Regions from separate parts of the Homo sapiens genome. Here region 2 is linked to region 1. Evidence: fine-mapped expression QTL. Tissue or cell type: iPS cells. Region 1 holds a variant in brackets; the other region holds the start of a gene. All regions are shown on one strand. Distances are between the middles of the regions.

The links. PIP is the estimated chance that this variant, and not a neighbour inherited with it, causes the effect.
Region 2: it holds the start of LINC01050, and the variant in region 1 is fine-mapped to the expression of LINC01050 in iPS cells (HipSci, PIP 0.95).

The regions. Positions count from the first base shown.
Region 1 is chr13:42,865,970-42,874,155 of GRCh38, reverse strand. LINC00428 (long intergenic non-protein coding RNA 428) reads left to right here and starts at 1,412. Exons shown (of 5, transcript NR_126389.1): 1 at 1,412-1,598; 2 at 3,454-3,555. RefSeq lists enhancers at 717-1,505, 3,086-3,875, 5,499-6,101. The variant A/G (reference allele first, on the strand shown) is at 4,249.
Region 2 is chr13:42,807,681-42,815,866 of GRCh38, reverse strand. It overlaps LINC01050 (long intergenic non-protein coding RNA 1050), which reads left to right and starts at 3,305. Exons shown (of 3, transcript NR_125747.1): 1 at 3,305-3,475; 2 at 4,025-4,348; 3 at 5,237-5,501.

The DNA of each region.
Region 1 (8,186 bases):
TTTTCTGCCATTGGATCCAGCACCTTACCATCTATCGCTTTGTAGGGGAGGAGACCAGCTTTTCCTCTCTCCATCTTAGGTTCATGGCTGAGGCCCCTATAACAAAAGACAGATGAACCAGAGAAAAGCTTACATGTTTATTTAACATGCATTTTACATGAAATGGGAGCTTTCATAAGGAAATAAATACCTGAAGAAACAGTTAAACCTGTGTATTTTTTAAACCTGTGTATTTTTATGCTGGGTTTGATGAAGAGAGGAGAGTCATAGAGAAATATAATAGGGTGAAAAGTATGACATGATGATTATAAACTGGGGAAACTCAGCAAGGCCAGTTTGTTCAGTTTCCCTTCTGTGACCTTTTGTTTTCAGGGATAAGGATGTTCCTTTCTTCCTGGCATAGAGAGGGCACATCTTACATGAGAGTCTATGACCTCTTTCAGGGGAAGGTCAGAAAATCTTTCCTAGGTTTTATGAACTGCATCAGGGAAGGAGGCTGGGGGAAAGTCAGAGACACTTTCCCGCTTCTGCTGTTTTCCTCAAATTTCTTCCGTTTAAAATATTCAATACGCCAAGGAACCATATTTTGGAGCAGCATGCCCTGAACCCCATCAGCTTCACTTTTTGTATGTGTACAACAGACACAGAGTGCAGATTTAGAGAGGCAGTCATTTGATCCAAATGAAAAGCCATGCTTCACAGGATACTTTCCTTGTCTGCACGTGTCAAGTCCTCATGTTCATGCACAGTATGTATCTCAAATGTACTCTCGAATGAGAGTAGATACTAATAGTTTAGCAGATTCGTGTTTTCTATTTTTCATGTGGTGAGTGATGTCATATAGCCCCCATGGTAAGTGTTGATAAACATTTTGGGATTTATAGGTTTGTCATTAACATTCTCATGAACAAAGTATTTGATTTTCCATTACACATTTCCTTTCACTTTTTGAGCCCATTAATGCCAAAACATTTTTTGCAAAGTTAAAACGTGTTACTGTCAGGCCTCTGAGCCCAAGCCAAGCCATCGCATCCCCCGTGACTTGCACGTATACGCCCAGATGGCCTGAAGTAACTGAAGAATCACAAAAGAAGTGAATATGCCTTGCCCCACCGTAACTGATGACATTCCACCACAAAAGAAGTGTAAATGGCTGGTCCTTGCCTTAACTGATGACATTACCTTGTGAAAGTCCTTTTCCTGGCTCATCCTGGCTCAAAAAGCACCCCCACTGAGCACCTTGCGACCCCCACTCCTACCCGCCAGAGAACAAACCCCCTTTGACTGTAATTTTCCTTTACCTACCCAAATCCTATAAAACGGCCCCACGCTTATTTCCCTTCGCTGACTCTCTTTTCGGACTCAGCCCACCTGCACCCAGGTGAAATAAACAGCTTTACTGCTCTCACACAAAGCCTGTTTGGTGGTCTCTTCACACGGACGCGCATGAAATTTGGTGCTGTGACTCGGATTGGGGGACCTCCCTTGGGAGATCAATCCCCTGTCCTCCTGTTCTTTGCTCCATGAGAAAGATCCACCTACGACCTCAGGTCCTCAGACCGACCAGCCCAAGAAACATCTCACCAATTTCAAATCCGGTAAGCGGCCTCTTTTTACTCTCTTCTCCAACCTCCCTCACTATCCCTCAACCTCTTTCTCCTTTCAATCGTGGCGCCACACTTCAATCTCTCCCTTCTCTTAATTTCAATTCCTTTCATTTTCTGGTAGAGACAAAAGAGACATGTTTTATCCGTGAACCCAAAACTCCGGCGCCGGTCACGGACTGGGAAGGCAGCCTTCCCTTGGTGTTTGATCATTGCAGGGACGCCTCTCTGAGTATACACTCACGTTTCAAGGGTGTCAGACCATGCAGGGACGCCTGCCTTGGTCCTTCACCCTTAGCGGCAAGTCCCGCTTTCCTGGGGCAGGGGCAAGTACCCCTCAACCCCTTCCCCTTCACCCTTAGCAGCAAGTGCTGCTTTCCTGGGGCAGGGGCAAGTACCCCTCAACCCCTTCTCCTTCACCCTTAGCGGCAAGTCCCGCTTTCCTAGGGGGCAAGAACCCCCCAATCGCTTATTTCCGCCGCACCCCAACCTCTTATCTCTGTGCCCCAATCACTTATTTCTGCACCCTGACCTCTTATCTCTGTGCCCCAATCCCTTATTTCCCTGCCCCAACCCCTTCTCTGCTTTCCTGGAGGGCAAGAACCCTCCGCCCCTTCTCCCTGTCTCTACTCTTTTCTCTGGGCTTGCCTCCTTCACTATGGGTAAGCTTCCACCTTCCATTCCTCCTTCTTCTCCCTTAGCCTGTGTTCTCAAAAACTTAAAACCTCTTCAACTCACATCTGACCTAAAACCTAAATGCCTTATTTTCTTCTGCAATGCTGCTTGACCCCAATACAAACTCGACAGTAGTTCCAAATAGCCAGAAAATGGCACTTTGAATTTTTCCATCCTGCAAAATTCAATAATTCTTGTCGTAAAATAGGCAAACAGTCTGAGGTGCCTGACGTCCAGGCATTCTTTTACACATCAGTCCCTTCCTAGTCTCTGTGACCAGTGCAACTCGTCCCAAATCTTCCTTCTTTCCCTCCCGCCTGTCCCCTCAGTACCAACCCCAAGTGTCGCTGAGTCTTTCTAATCTTCCTTTTCTGCAGACCCATCTGACCTCTCCCTTCCTCCCCAGGTTGTTCCTCGCCAGGCCGAGCTAGGTCCCAATTCTTCCTCAGCCTCTGCTCCTCCACCCTATAATCTTTTTATCGCCTCCCCTCCTCACACCTGGTCGGGCTTACAGTTTCGTTCCGTGACTAGCCCTCCCCCTCCTGCCCAGCAATTTACTCTTAAAAAGGTGGCTGGAGCTAAAGGCATAGTCAAGGTTAATGCTCCTTTTTCTTTATCCCAAATCAGAAGCGTTTAGGCTCTTTTTCATCAAATATAAAAATCCAGCCCAGTTCATGACTTGTTTGGCAGCAACCCCGAGACGCTTTACAGCCCTAGACCCTAAAAGGTCAAAAGGCCGTCTTATTCTCAAAATACATTTTATTACCCAATCTGCTCCAGACATTAAAACTCCAAAAATTAAATTCCGGCCCTCAAACCCCACAACAGGATTTAGTTAACCTCGCCTTCAAGGTGTACAATAATAGAAAAAAGTTGCAATTCCTTGCCTCCACTGTGAGACAAACCCCAGCCACATCTCCAGCACACAAGAACTTCCAAATGCCTGAACGGCAGCGGCCAGGCGTTCCTCCAGAACCTCCTCCCACAGGAGCTTGCTACATGTGCCGGGAATCTGGCCACTGGGCCAAGGAATGCCCGCAGCCTGGGATTCCTCCTAAGCCGTGTCCTATCTGTGTGGGACCCCACTGAAAATCGGACTGTTCTACTCACCTGGCAGCCACTCCCAGAGCCCCTGGAACTCTGGCCCAAGGCTCTCTGACTGACTCCTTCCCAGATCTTCTCGGCTTAGCGGCTGAAGACTGACACCGGCCGATCGCCTCGGAAGCCCCCTAGACCATCACGGATGCCGAGCTTCGGGTAACTCTAACAGTGGAAGGTAAGCCCGTCCCCTTCTTAATCAATACGGAGGCTACTCACTCCACATTACCCTCTTTTCAAGGCGTGTTTCCCTTGCCTCCATAACTGTTGTGGGTATTGACGGCCAGGCTTCTAAACCTCTTAAAACTCCCCAACTCTGGTGCCAACTTAGACAACACTCTTTTAAGCACTCCTTTTTAGTTATCCCCACCTGCCCAGTTCCCTTTTTAGGCTGAGACACTTTAACTAAATTATCTGCTTCCCTGACTATTCCTGGACTACAGCTGTATCTCATTGCAGCCCTTCTTCCCAATCCAAAGCCTCCTTTGCGTCCTCCTCTTGTATCCCCCCACCTTAACCCACAAGTATAAGATACCTCTACTCCCTCCTTGGCGACCGATCATGCACCCCTTACCATCTCATTAAAACCTAATTACCCTTACCCCACTCAACACCAATATCCCATCCCGCAGCACGCTTTAAAAAGATTAAAGCCTGTTATCACTCGCCTGCTACAGCATGGCCTTTTAAAGCCTATAAACTCTCCTTACAATTCCCCCATTTTACCTGTCCTAAAACCAGGCAAGCCTTACAAGTTAGTTCAGGATCTGCGCCTTATCAACCAAATTGTTTTGCCTATCCACCCCGTGGTGCCAAACCCATATACTCTCCTATCCTCGATACCTGCCTCTACAACCCATTATTCTGTTCT[A/G]GATCTCAAACATGCTTTCTTTACTATTCCTTTGCACCCTTCATCCCAGCCTTTCTTCGCTTTCACTTGGACTGACCCTGACACCCATCAGGCTCAGCAAATTACCTAGGCTGTACTGCCGCAAAGCTTCTCAGACAGCCCCCATTACTTCAATCAAGCCCAAATTTCTTCCTCATCTGTTACCTATCTCGGCATAATTCTCATAAAAACACGTGCTCTCCCTGCCAATCGTGTCCGACTGATCTCTCAAACCCAAGCACCTTCTACAAAACAACTCCTTTCCTTCCTAGGCATGGTTAGCGCGGTCAGAATTTTTACACAAGAGCCAGGACCACACCCTGTAGCCTTTCTGTCCAAACAACTTGACCTTACTGTTTTAGCCTAGCCCTCATGTCTGCGTGCAGCGGCTGCTGCTGCTTTAATACTTTTAGAGGCCCTCAAAATAAGTAGAGGCCTTTCCTACAGGGTCCGAGAAGGCCACCGCAGTCATTTCTTTCGTTCTGTCAGACATAATTCCTCAGTTTAGCCTTCCCACCTTAATACAGTCTGATAACAGATGAGCCTTTATTAGTCAAATCAGCCAAGCATTTTTTCAGGCTCTTAGTATTCAGTGAAACCTTTATATCCCTTATGGTCCTCCAAGAAAAGTAGAATGGACTAAAGGTCTTTTAAAAACACACCTCACCAAGCTCAGCCACCAACTTAAAAAGGACTGGACAATACTTTTACCACTTTCCCTTCTCAGAATTCAGGCCTGTCCTCGTAATGCTACAGGGTACAGCCCATTTAAGGTCCTGTATAGACACTCCTTTTTATTACGCCCCAGTCTCATTCCAGACACCAGACCAACTTAGACTGTGCCTCAAAAAAAACAAAAAAACTTGTCATCCCTACTATCTTCTGTCTACTCATACTCCTATTCACCGTTCTCAACTACTCATACATGCCCTGCTCTTGTTTACACTGCCAGTTTACACTGTTTTTCCAAGCCATCACAGCTGATATCTCCTGGTGCTATCCCCAAACTGCCACTCTTAACTCTTGAAGTAAATAAATAATCTTTGCTGGCAGGACTATGCCAAATCTCCTTAAACACTCTCTAATCAGACATCCTGAGTCGTCCCAATTCTTAGACCTTTTATACCTGTTTTTCTCCTTCTGTTATTCCATTTAGTTTTTCAATTCATACAAAACCGTATCCAGGCCATCACCAATCATTCTATACGACAAATGTTTCTTCTAACAACCCCACAATATCACCCCTTACCACAAGACCTCCCTTCAGCTTAATCTCTCCCACTCTAGGTTCCCACGCCGCCCCTAATCCCGCTCGAAGCAGCCCTGAGAAACATCACCCATTCTCTCTCCATACCACCCCCCAAAAAATTTTCGCCGCCCCAACACTTCAACACTATTTTGTTTTATTCTTCTTATTAATATAAGAAGGCAGGAATATCAGGCCTCTGAGCCCAAGCCAAGCCATCGCATCCCCTGTGACTTGCACGTATACGCCCAGATGGCCTGAAGTAACTGAAGAATCACAAAAGAAGTGAATATGCCTTGCCCCACCGTAACTGATGACATTCCACCACAAAAGAAGTGTAAATGGCCGGTCCTTGCCTTAACTGATGACATTACCTTGTGAAAGTCCTTTTCCTGGCTCATCCTGGCTCAAAAAGCACCCCCACTGAGCACCTTGCGACCCCCACTCCTACCCGCCAGAGAACAAACCCCCTTTGACTGTAATTTTCCTTTACTGACCCAAATCCTATAAAACGGCCCCACCCTTATCTCTCTTCGCTGACTCTCTTTTCGGACTCAGCCCACCTGTACCCAGGTGAAATAAACAGCTTTATTGCTCACACAAAGCCTGTTTGGTGGTCTCTTCACACGGACGTGCATGAAAGTTACCAAATAATATTATTTAATAGTTGTCGATTTATACAGCATACCATTAATGTTAAAACCGCTGTTGCAAGAGCATTTAGACTCTTTCTTCATATGCTATGTGGCAGGAATTCTTGACCTCTATTTTCCATAAATATTGTATATATACCTAGACTAAAATGTCCGGTGTTTTCCACTGACAGCACTGAATGGCATCCTGCTATCTTCAGGCATCTCAAATTGAAGTCACTACAGTTGGCTGGTACATCAAGGGGCCAGCAGGGACCACAGCACCAAATCTTCTCTCACCATTATCCCAGATAAAAAGAGTGTGCTGCCTGTAGCTGCTAGCACCCTTTCTTTGATAAGGGAGCACCCCATAAGCTGTCCTGGAAAGGAAGGTGTTAGTTAAGTTGTGTTGCAGGTTGGATTCTCCGGAGGCAGATGCCTAGAAGTTTAGGGCCCGAGGTTTATTTGGCACCAACACCTGTGGAAGAGAGAAGAAGCAGGATTGGGCAGTGAAAGATGTCCAGCAGTGATATGGGCATGACAAAGTCTTGGCCAGAGGCTGTCTCTGTACCACCCACAGTGGGGTATGTGCAGTGCAGTGACATGATGATAGCTCACTGCAGCCTCAACCTCCCAGGCTCAGGCAATCCTCCTGCCTCAGCCTCCTCAAGTCCTCCTTTGAAGAGGTAGCTGGACATCACATCGTTGTCTACCACGTAGTGTGTCTAGATAAGGCTGGGAAAAGTGAGGTGGGTTATCCCTGGGCATCCTCTGGTTTAACAAGAGTAGGAACTCAGTTGACTGCTCTTGTTTCGTATACCATTAGACAAGTCCACAGCAGAAAGTGAAAGCACTGCCAGGTACAGTGACTCATGCCTGTATTCCTAGTGTTTAGGGAGACTGAGGCAGGAGGATCGCTTGAGGCCAGGTGTTTGAGACCAGCCTGGGCAACATAGCAAGACCCTGTCTCTACAAAAATTTAAAAAATTAGCCAGGTGTGGTGGTACACACCTGTAGTGCCATCTACTCAGCAGGTTGAGGGAGGAGGATCACTTAACCCGGGAGGCCGAGGCTGCAGTGAGCTATGATCACACCAATGCACTTCAGCCTGGGCAACAGATTGAGAGCCTGTCTCAAAAAAAAAAAAAAAAAAAAAAGTGAAGGCACCAAGTGGCAATTGTCAGAGGCTGTGGCCTACTCAGGAAGCAGACTTGGAGATGGAGAGTGGTGGACAGGAGGTTTGCTAGGGAGTGGTCTTGGGATCACCACCTCTGGAAGGGGAAAGGAAGAAGGATGGGGCAGGAAGAGAAGTTGGCTGATGCATTAGTCAGGGTTCACTAGAGGGAAAGAACTAATAGGATAGATGTATATATGAAGGGGAGTTTATTAGGAAGAATCAACTCACAAGATCACAAGGTGAAGTCCCACAATAGGCTGTCTGCAAGCTAAGGAGCAAGGAAGCCAGTCTGAGTTCCAAAACCTCAAAAGTAGGGAAGCCGACAATGTGGCCTTCAGTCTGTGGCCGTAAGCTCGAGAGCCCCTGGCAAACCACTGGTCTAAGTCCAAGAGTCCAAAAGCTGAAGAGCTTGGAGTCTGATGTTCAAGAGCAGGAAGGATTCAGCAAGAGAGAAAGATGGAAGGCCAGAAGACTCAGTAAGTCTGCTCTTTCTACCTTTTTCAGCCTGCTTTATTCTAGCAGCTGATTAGATGGTGCCCACCCAGACTGCAGGTGGGTCTGCCTCTCCCAGTCCACTGACTCAAATGTTAATCTCCTTTGACAACACCCTCCCAGACACACCCAGGAACAATACCTTGCATCTTTCAATTCAATCAAGTTGACACTCAATCTTAACCATCACAGCCTATGATTCAGCCTCAACAGAGAGCAACCACATGGCCAGCTCTAGACAAAGTGGGGGCCAGACCTTTATATCTCCTTATAAACCAGTTCTTGGCTGTGGGCACCCTGGGAAGAGGGCATGGTGGTGGGTGAGATGACACTCTTCATTTGAAGCAATTCCGATGAGGGCTGACAGCTGGGG
Region 2 (8,186 bases), 58 kb after region 1:
AAACACATCGCAACTTATAAAAATACAGTGCTGACCTTTTTCTGGGTGAGACGTGGGAAGGGGTGTTAACTCCCAGTTGGTACTTTCCTTGATAACTCACTCTGTTTTGTATCCAATTAAGAAAAATACGTTGCTTTTAAACAATGCACTAACTTAAGCTTCCTATGTCTCAGTTTTCTCATATTAAATTGGGAATAGACATTTCTATGATGACTTTTCCTCTGTATTTTACCTCATCAAGATTCAGTGATAGGAAAAATAGGGTATTAACTAAGAAGGTTTTTGAAATCTTCAGGTAAAAAAAATGTGGTATTTTAACAAGAAAATTGATACAACAGCAGATACTACAACTGGTAAAATGAATTTTAACTTTGGTGTCCCTAGATGCTCCCTATTCAGTTCTTAGTAAATATATTTCAATCTAGAAGAAAATTGGGACCCTGCCAACTAGTATTAATGCTTGCTTGCCTATTAATTGAAGCACACTTTTGGAAAATGTTGTATGTATCTGGGGAAATATAATGCATTCAGCATAAGAATAAATCTTTTTTTTGAGAGAGCTAGACCTAGAGATTTTCCTCACTTTTCAGTCATGCCACAATCTTTCTGGTTTATCAGCAACTTTTTCTCTGCTAAGCAGTGATGGTAATGCATACATTTGCCTTTTTCAGTAAATCATCCTTTTATAATTTGGCTTTCTTTCAATCTTAGATTCCCATCAGAAGGGTTTTACCTCAAGGCATATTGCAACCAATTTCCCCCATAATTAATGCCATATCTGCCTCAGAGTCCATTTCAATTCCCAAATGAAAATTGATGAGGCAGCCAACCACAAATAAGGATCACATAGCACTGATTAAACTATCAGACTAGTTTCCAGGCTATCATGTTACAGTGCTGAATCATAAGCAGAGGGTGAGTTTTCTGGTCTTTTGCAATGTATATTGCTCATAGTAAGTGTCCATAAATGGCTCTTAGCAGATGAAGAGAAGCATTTTATATGGCCCCTATCAAATTCTACCAGAAAGACTAATGATTAAAGAGGTTTGTGTTACAGGAACCAAGACTTCATAGCACATGAAAGAAAATTGTATCTAGACTTGATAAAAATGAGCCACAAACTGCTACAAAAATCACCAGGACAAGAAAAACTCACTTAGGTGTTTTTATCCCATCCACATGGAGTGTGAATGGTTAAGTCAGGTAACTGCATTTTGCCTAGGAAGACCAAATCCTCTCTCCACCAGCCTTCAATTTCAGACTCCAGCAGGGAGCTGAATTGGAGGTGGATGTGCGTAGCAACTATGCACCAGTCAGTAGCAAGAATTCATTCCTTCATCCCATTCATTCATTCATTCATTCACTCACTTAATATTTATTTACCTATTTTCCAGGTGCTGTGTGAAGAATGGAAACATGCAACAATAAAGACACCAGTCCTGGTGGACCTGATGGCCTATGTCTGGTGTGGCGGGGGACAGATAAGTAAACAGATCGTCCTATACGGGGTAGCCAACGCTATCATCTGATAGAAGTAAGCATGAGGTACCAGTCAAGTATGCAAGTATCTGTGCATGAGATGCTAGTCAAGTATTTGTGTGTGCATGTTTGAAGGCTTCCTGGAAGAGATCACTGAAACTCTAAGAGTAGGTAGCCAGGTTAAGAATGGGGGCAGAGCAGGATATCTGAGGCAGTGGAAGCAATTTGAGCAATGTGTGGAGTGGAGAGAGAACCTGACTTGTTTGATAAGCTTGGAAGGTTAAGCATAGCTAGAACAGGGTATTGGAAGAGTTTTATAGAGGAAAAGATGACTAGAGGTAGGCTGCCAGATGTTCTCTCCCAAAATATTTGACCATCAGTGTAGCAGGGCAGATATTAGTGTGATTATGAAAACATATATGTGTGTGTGTATATACATATGTATGTATATTTAAATGCATTACATATTTCAATCAGTGATATGTGTTTTTCTAGGTATCTTTTTGGCATATTTTTAAGAAACACATTTCGAAAATTAAATGTAGGTGTGAACCCTTCGCCACACCCAAAGAACCATTCTTGACACTCATGCAGAACATTTTATGCCCCAGTTTGAATATCTGACTTTGGTTTATCTCACTGATACCTGTAGCCCCTCCAAAGTAGTGGTAGACAGAGCTGAGACAAGAAATTTCACAGCTTTTTCCTATTGTGGAACAAACAATCTGAGTTTAAAACATATTGACTTACTGAATTAAAGTAAGTCACTCCACCTCTTAAAGACTCAGTCACACATCCAATTTTCCAGGGGCCTGTGGCCACTGAGTGTCACAGAGTGTGGAAGGCTGTAGGGGCCAGTCCAGAGGAGAGACCACATGGCCTGATTGCCCAGTAGAAATTGATATTCACAAAAGAATGCTGGCTCAAAAAAATAAATTGAAAAAAAAAAAAAAACCCCAGCAACACAGTGAACAGGTGGCTTAGTATGGCTGGCCGTGCTTGCACTTTTTAATGACCTGATTTGTTTCCAAAATTTGTTTTAGGTAATGTATTAGTCTGTTCTCATGCTGCTGTAAAGAACTACCCAAGACTGGGTAATTTATAAAGAAAAGAGGTTTGATTGACTCACAGTTCCACAGGCTGTACAGGAGGCATGGCTTGGGAAGCCTCGAGAAATTTACAATCATGGCGGAAGGCAAAGGGGAAGCCAGCATGTCTCACATGGCAGGAGCAGGAGGAATAGAGAGCAGGAGGAGGTGCTACACATTTCAAAAAGCCAGATCTCATGAGAACTCACTCACTATCATGAGAACAGCAAGGGGGAAGTCCGCCCCCATGATCCAGTCACCTCCCACCAGACCCCTCCTCCAACACTGGGATTACAATTTGACATGTGATTTGGGTGGGGACACAGGGTCAAACCATATCAGGTAACAAAACTCCAGTCTCAAAAATGGTAAGTCAATTTTATTGCTATTATAATTCTTAAAACTGGTGTTGATGATGATGATGATAGCAGTTATTTGTACAGTAACATGCCCAAGACAAATCCCAAGAGAGGAACATAAACAAAATCAAGTGGGGAGATTTGACTTTGCCCAAGTTCTTCTCAACTAGAAATTTCTAAAGGTGTTTTGTGTGGAGTGCTGCGCTATGTGCAGTTTTCAGCTATTCAACCTCAAGGATGTCAAATTGTTGGAAGAGATTCAAAGAAGGATAATCAAACTTGGATGGAGCTGACTTAAAGAAATGGGCTAACCTCCAGAAAGAATGCCATTGAATCCAGAGAGAGGTGCCGTTGAATCAGCCCTTGCTGATGAAGCCTCTTCACTGTACTGCTCAGACCTCTCCATCCTGGTGGCAAGGGCTTAGACCATTATTCATGGTCTGACTGGCCTCGAGGTGGCTGTCTCGCCTTTGAAAAAGGGCAGACACAGAGCATGTTCAGAGCACGGAGCCATACTGTGCGATTTCTTCAAAGAGAGCTTAACCACAGGTTTGTCACAGACTCCTCTTGCTCCTTCCTTCCAATTTAGTCCTTAAATGTGGTCCAACTACAACAAGAGGGAAGTCTCACAATCTAGAATATTGGGGGTTTTGTCACTATTCATTTTTATTAATAGAAAACAAACCTTTATTCCAAATTTGTTATACTTGAAATTGCTAATTTAAAAAAATGAATTTAGGGCTGAGGTGGGAGGATCATTTGAGGCCAGGAGTTCGAGACCAGTCTGGACAACATAGTGAGACCCTGTCTCTAAAAACACTGGAAAAACAGTTAGCTGGGTATGGTGGCAGGTGCCTGTAGTCCCAGCTACTCAGGAGGCTGAGGCAGGAGGATCACTTGAGCCTAGGAGTTGAAGGCTGCAGTGAGCTATGATAGTGCCTCTGCACTCCAGCCTGGGTGACAGAGCAAGAAACTGTCTCCAAAACAAATATATTGAATTGAAAATAATCACGTAATAATCTTGCTTTGACTAAGACAATGAAACTGTGGCTTTTAAAAAAAAAGTATTTTAGCACCATATGCTCATTTGTCTTTCAGAATTTGGATTAATGAATGACGTAACTGCTTCAGGGCAACACACCCTCACTGCAGCTGCTTAGCCCAGGAAGCAGCAAGGTCAATACAAGGAGAGCCACAGGCCTGGGGAGATGCATGCCTTCCTTCCTGGCCACGTGGATCTCACTACTTAGCCCAGATGGCCTGCGAGAAGGACAAAGCCAAGCACTTCACAACACTGTCAGTTGCTGTCCTGAAGAAGGTGGCCAGGAGCTCTAGAAGGATTCAAAGCCCCAGGGATTTTTGGTTTTTATGTATACACTTCTCTTTACATACTTGTTCCTCAACATCCAATCAGCCTTGCAGGTTTGTCCCCGCTCCTAGCATTCAGAAACACTCAAGAGCAGGGTGGGTCAGAGCTCTCCACCACATACGCAGCAGAGTGAAAGAAGCTGCCCTGCAGGACAGCTCCAGGCTCATGGCCACCCCTCCTCACATGCATACCTCCTCCTCTTCCACCAAACAACAACAAACTCCTTCATGTAGCATTCACGCCCTCCTCTTGTGGCCTCTACCTGCCATCCCACACCAATCCCTTTTTATGTCCCCACAGGTACCCAGGAGTCTCCCCTAACTAAATTCCCCACTGCTTCTCCAAATCACCCCAATCCTACTTCCCACTGAAACTAACAAGAAGGGAAGGAAGGTGTTAACAAATGAAGTCTTCGAAGGAAGTCACCCCAAGAATCTGGGCCTACTAGTCATTCCCTAAGGCTCAGCTCTTGGCATTTGCTTCGTTCCCTGGGCCATTATTTTCATACTGTGAAGAAATTTCACCCTAGTCCCATTTTGGAGAGCAAGTGTTGGTACAGTGCTGGGTAAAGACCCTGACACCAGGTCCTGGTCCCTGGCCCAGAGCAGGGGATATGAAGGGAAGCCCCACTCACTGTGTGCTCCCTCACTGACTCCTCAAAGGAATTCCAGGAAGGGTGCTTTAGTGACCCTTTGGCTCACAGAGTTAGAGTGACCTGCCCAAGGCCACCCAGAGAATGAATGGTGGGACTGAGATCACACCTGGGCCTGCCTGGCTGCCAAGCCTTTTGCTATTTTCATTATTCCACATTTCTTTCCAAGGATACAGAAAGCAGGGATAGGAAGTGCTGTGGAAACAAGCAAAAAGCCTTATCCATAGTCAGCATCCAAAAAGTACTATACCTTCTCTGACCCCTGCTTTATTTATTTGTTTATTTTCAGGGATGATGTAATAGCCAGAAAAATAAGTGAACAGAAGATTCCGGGTTCTACTTTATGCCAATTTTTCTTAAATATCTCAGTCACTAGAAAAAGATCTATTTGAAAATCTTGCTCTGAGCAGTTTCTGTCTTGGGCCCAGTTGTTTGAGGAGCCTGTTGAATTTTTAAATTTATTAGTGTTCCCATGCTTCATTCATTGGCATATATGTATATTCTCTATACTTTATAATTACAAGTAAGCTCTTGATAATAAAAAGTAACTGTCATTCTGTGAAGCTCTTTAATGCAGCCAAAGATAATTTCAGGGGGCAATTGGCAGTCTAAGTCCTTGCTTTCTCTCATTTTAAAGGAGAACCAAATCAACTTAGAGTGAATTTGTTCAAATGTGGGTAAGATTTAACAGGCACTTCAGCTGCCCAGGGTACTTTTCCATGTCTCTCCAACCAACCCCACCCAAATAGCTTAGGATTGGCATTTTCTGATGAGCACAGGGATAGAGAATGAGAACGGAGTCAGGTCCTCAGGTATTCAAGGTTAGAATTCCTTCTTAACCTTGCCCACTATGCCCTATGTGGGGACATGCTACAGCAGAGATCACTTGAGAATTATCCTGTGGCTCACACTGCCATAATTAGTTATCTGTTCGGCACCTCTCAACTAATCAGAACAATGGCACATCCAAAAGTAAAAGGAGAAGAAAGGAGACAAGAATACAGCGACTGAATAATAAAATGGGTGAATCAGTTAGCAGAGCAAAAGACAGCACAGTCATAGGCTGGCTAAGGTTATACTTTTTGTTTTTTATTTTATTTTTTAGGCAGAGCAAGACAGTCTTGCTCTGTCACCCAGGCATAAGTGCAGTGGCATGATCTCTGCTCACTGCAACCTCTGCCTCCCGAGTTCAAGTGATTCTCATGTTTCAACCTCCTGAGTAGCTGGGATTACAGGTGTGCGTAACCACGCCTGGCTAATTTTTGAATTTTTAGTAGAGACGGGGTTTCACCATGTTGACCAGGCTGGTCTCGAACTCCTGACCTCAAGTGATCCACCCGCGTCAGCTTCTGAAAGTGCTGGGATTACAGGCATGAGCCACCGCACCTGGCTAGCTTTATTATTAAGCCCTGTCAGCACCCACAAAGAGAAGTACTGGGATGGCACAGACAGCGGAGACAGTGACAAAGACCAAGGTTAAGGCTGGAGTTATGTGGAAAAAGAAAATGGAATGAGACCAAGCAATTGGGGATGAAGAATAAAAAGCAGAACCAGTGACAGCAGGGAGCAGAGATCAGAAGGAACAAGAAGATACTCTGGAAGAATACAACCAAACAAGAAAAAGAATGAATTGTATGTGAACATTGAGTTTAGGGGCAAGCTGACTGTCTTAGCCAGTTCAGGCTGCTGTAACAAAACACCAAAAACTGGGTAGCTTTTAAAACAGAAATGTATTGCTCACAGTTCTGGGGGCTGGGAAGGTTAAGATGAAGCTGCTAGCACATTCAGCATCTGTTGAAGACCTGGTTCACTGATGGCGCCTTCTAGCTGTGTCCTCACATAGTGAAAGGGGGTGAATGAGCTCCATTGGGCCTCTTTTATTAGGACAATAATCCCACTCATGAAGGTTCATGATCTTATCACCTCCCCCAAAGCCCCACCTCCTAATACCATCGCTTGGGAGTTGAGGATTTCAACGTATGAATTTTGGGAAGGACACAAACATTTAGATTATAGCACCAGCTTACAAATCTCAATGGCTCCTGAGGTTGGCATCACGGGATTATAGAAAAGCACCATAACTGAGGCTTAGCATGAGGCTGAGTCATAAAGAGCATTTAAAGTCATGAATGTGTTATATATGGAAGACCACAGAGATGTGTCATAAGTTTTAGATGGATTTTGATACAGTATAGTTGAAATTTAGATTTTATCAGTAAAAGCCTAAGCATTGAGCTATTTGCAAGGATAACCAGTTTCCAACCATCCCAGATAACTAAAGGATAGTCAAAAAATCACTATCCAAAGGCTATTGTTGTTTCCAAAGGCACAGAGATGTAAAAGTGGGGCCACCTTAAGAAAAAGACATGGATTCCTATTGCTGGATCAGAGGGTCCAGGGGGAGGGGTGGAGGTGGTGTGGAATCGCAAAGCTCGGGAGACACTGAATGCATTGAAACAAGGGTGTGTCTTGAGCTACTTACGTTTTGGAAATACAATACTGGCAGGATACTATAGGAGACTGCAGTGGGAGAAAAATTGTCCGCAGGACCAAGAATAAGGTAAGGCAAGTGAGGTGCTTATCTCTGATGTAAAATTTAAGGAAGTGCTAAAACCCCAAGTTATTAATAATAAATAATATTTTAATGCAATATTTTTAGAAATAAATATGTGTGCACAAAATACATGATGAACAAAATATCAAAAAAATTTTATTATTAAAATATCAAAAATTTAAATCAAGACAGACTCAGCAGTGACAAAGGCAATATCCAGGAGAGGCTGGATGACTCAGAGAGATGTTTAAGAGGAAGGATTAAGTAACTGATCAAATGTTGCTGGAACAGTGAAACCGGGGAGACATGGGAGTCAAGGACAAAGCCCAAGTTTATGACTCAGGGGGACCTGCCAGTCACCAGCGTAGGGCAGTCAGAGAAGAGGTAGATTTACAGGAGGATGCGGGTGAGATCTGCCGTGAGTTTGTCACATTTGAGGTGTGCATGGGATATCAAAGGGGAGGAAATCTAGCCAGTGACAGGGCATATGGACCTAGCACTCAGTAGAGAAGTCTGGGCTGGCCATAAAGGGTGGGGATTTCTCACATGTAGGTGCTGCTGGGAGCTGTGTGTGTAGGTGAGCCTGACCAAAGAGCGAGTGTGTAGAGAAAAGACAACGGTACCGAACATAATAAAAAGTAGTAATAACATTGATTGAGGCTTACTCTGCACTAGCCATTCTGCT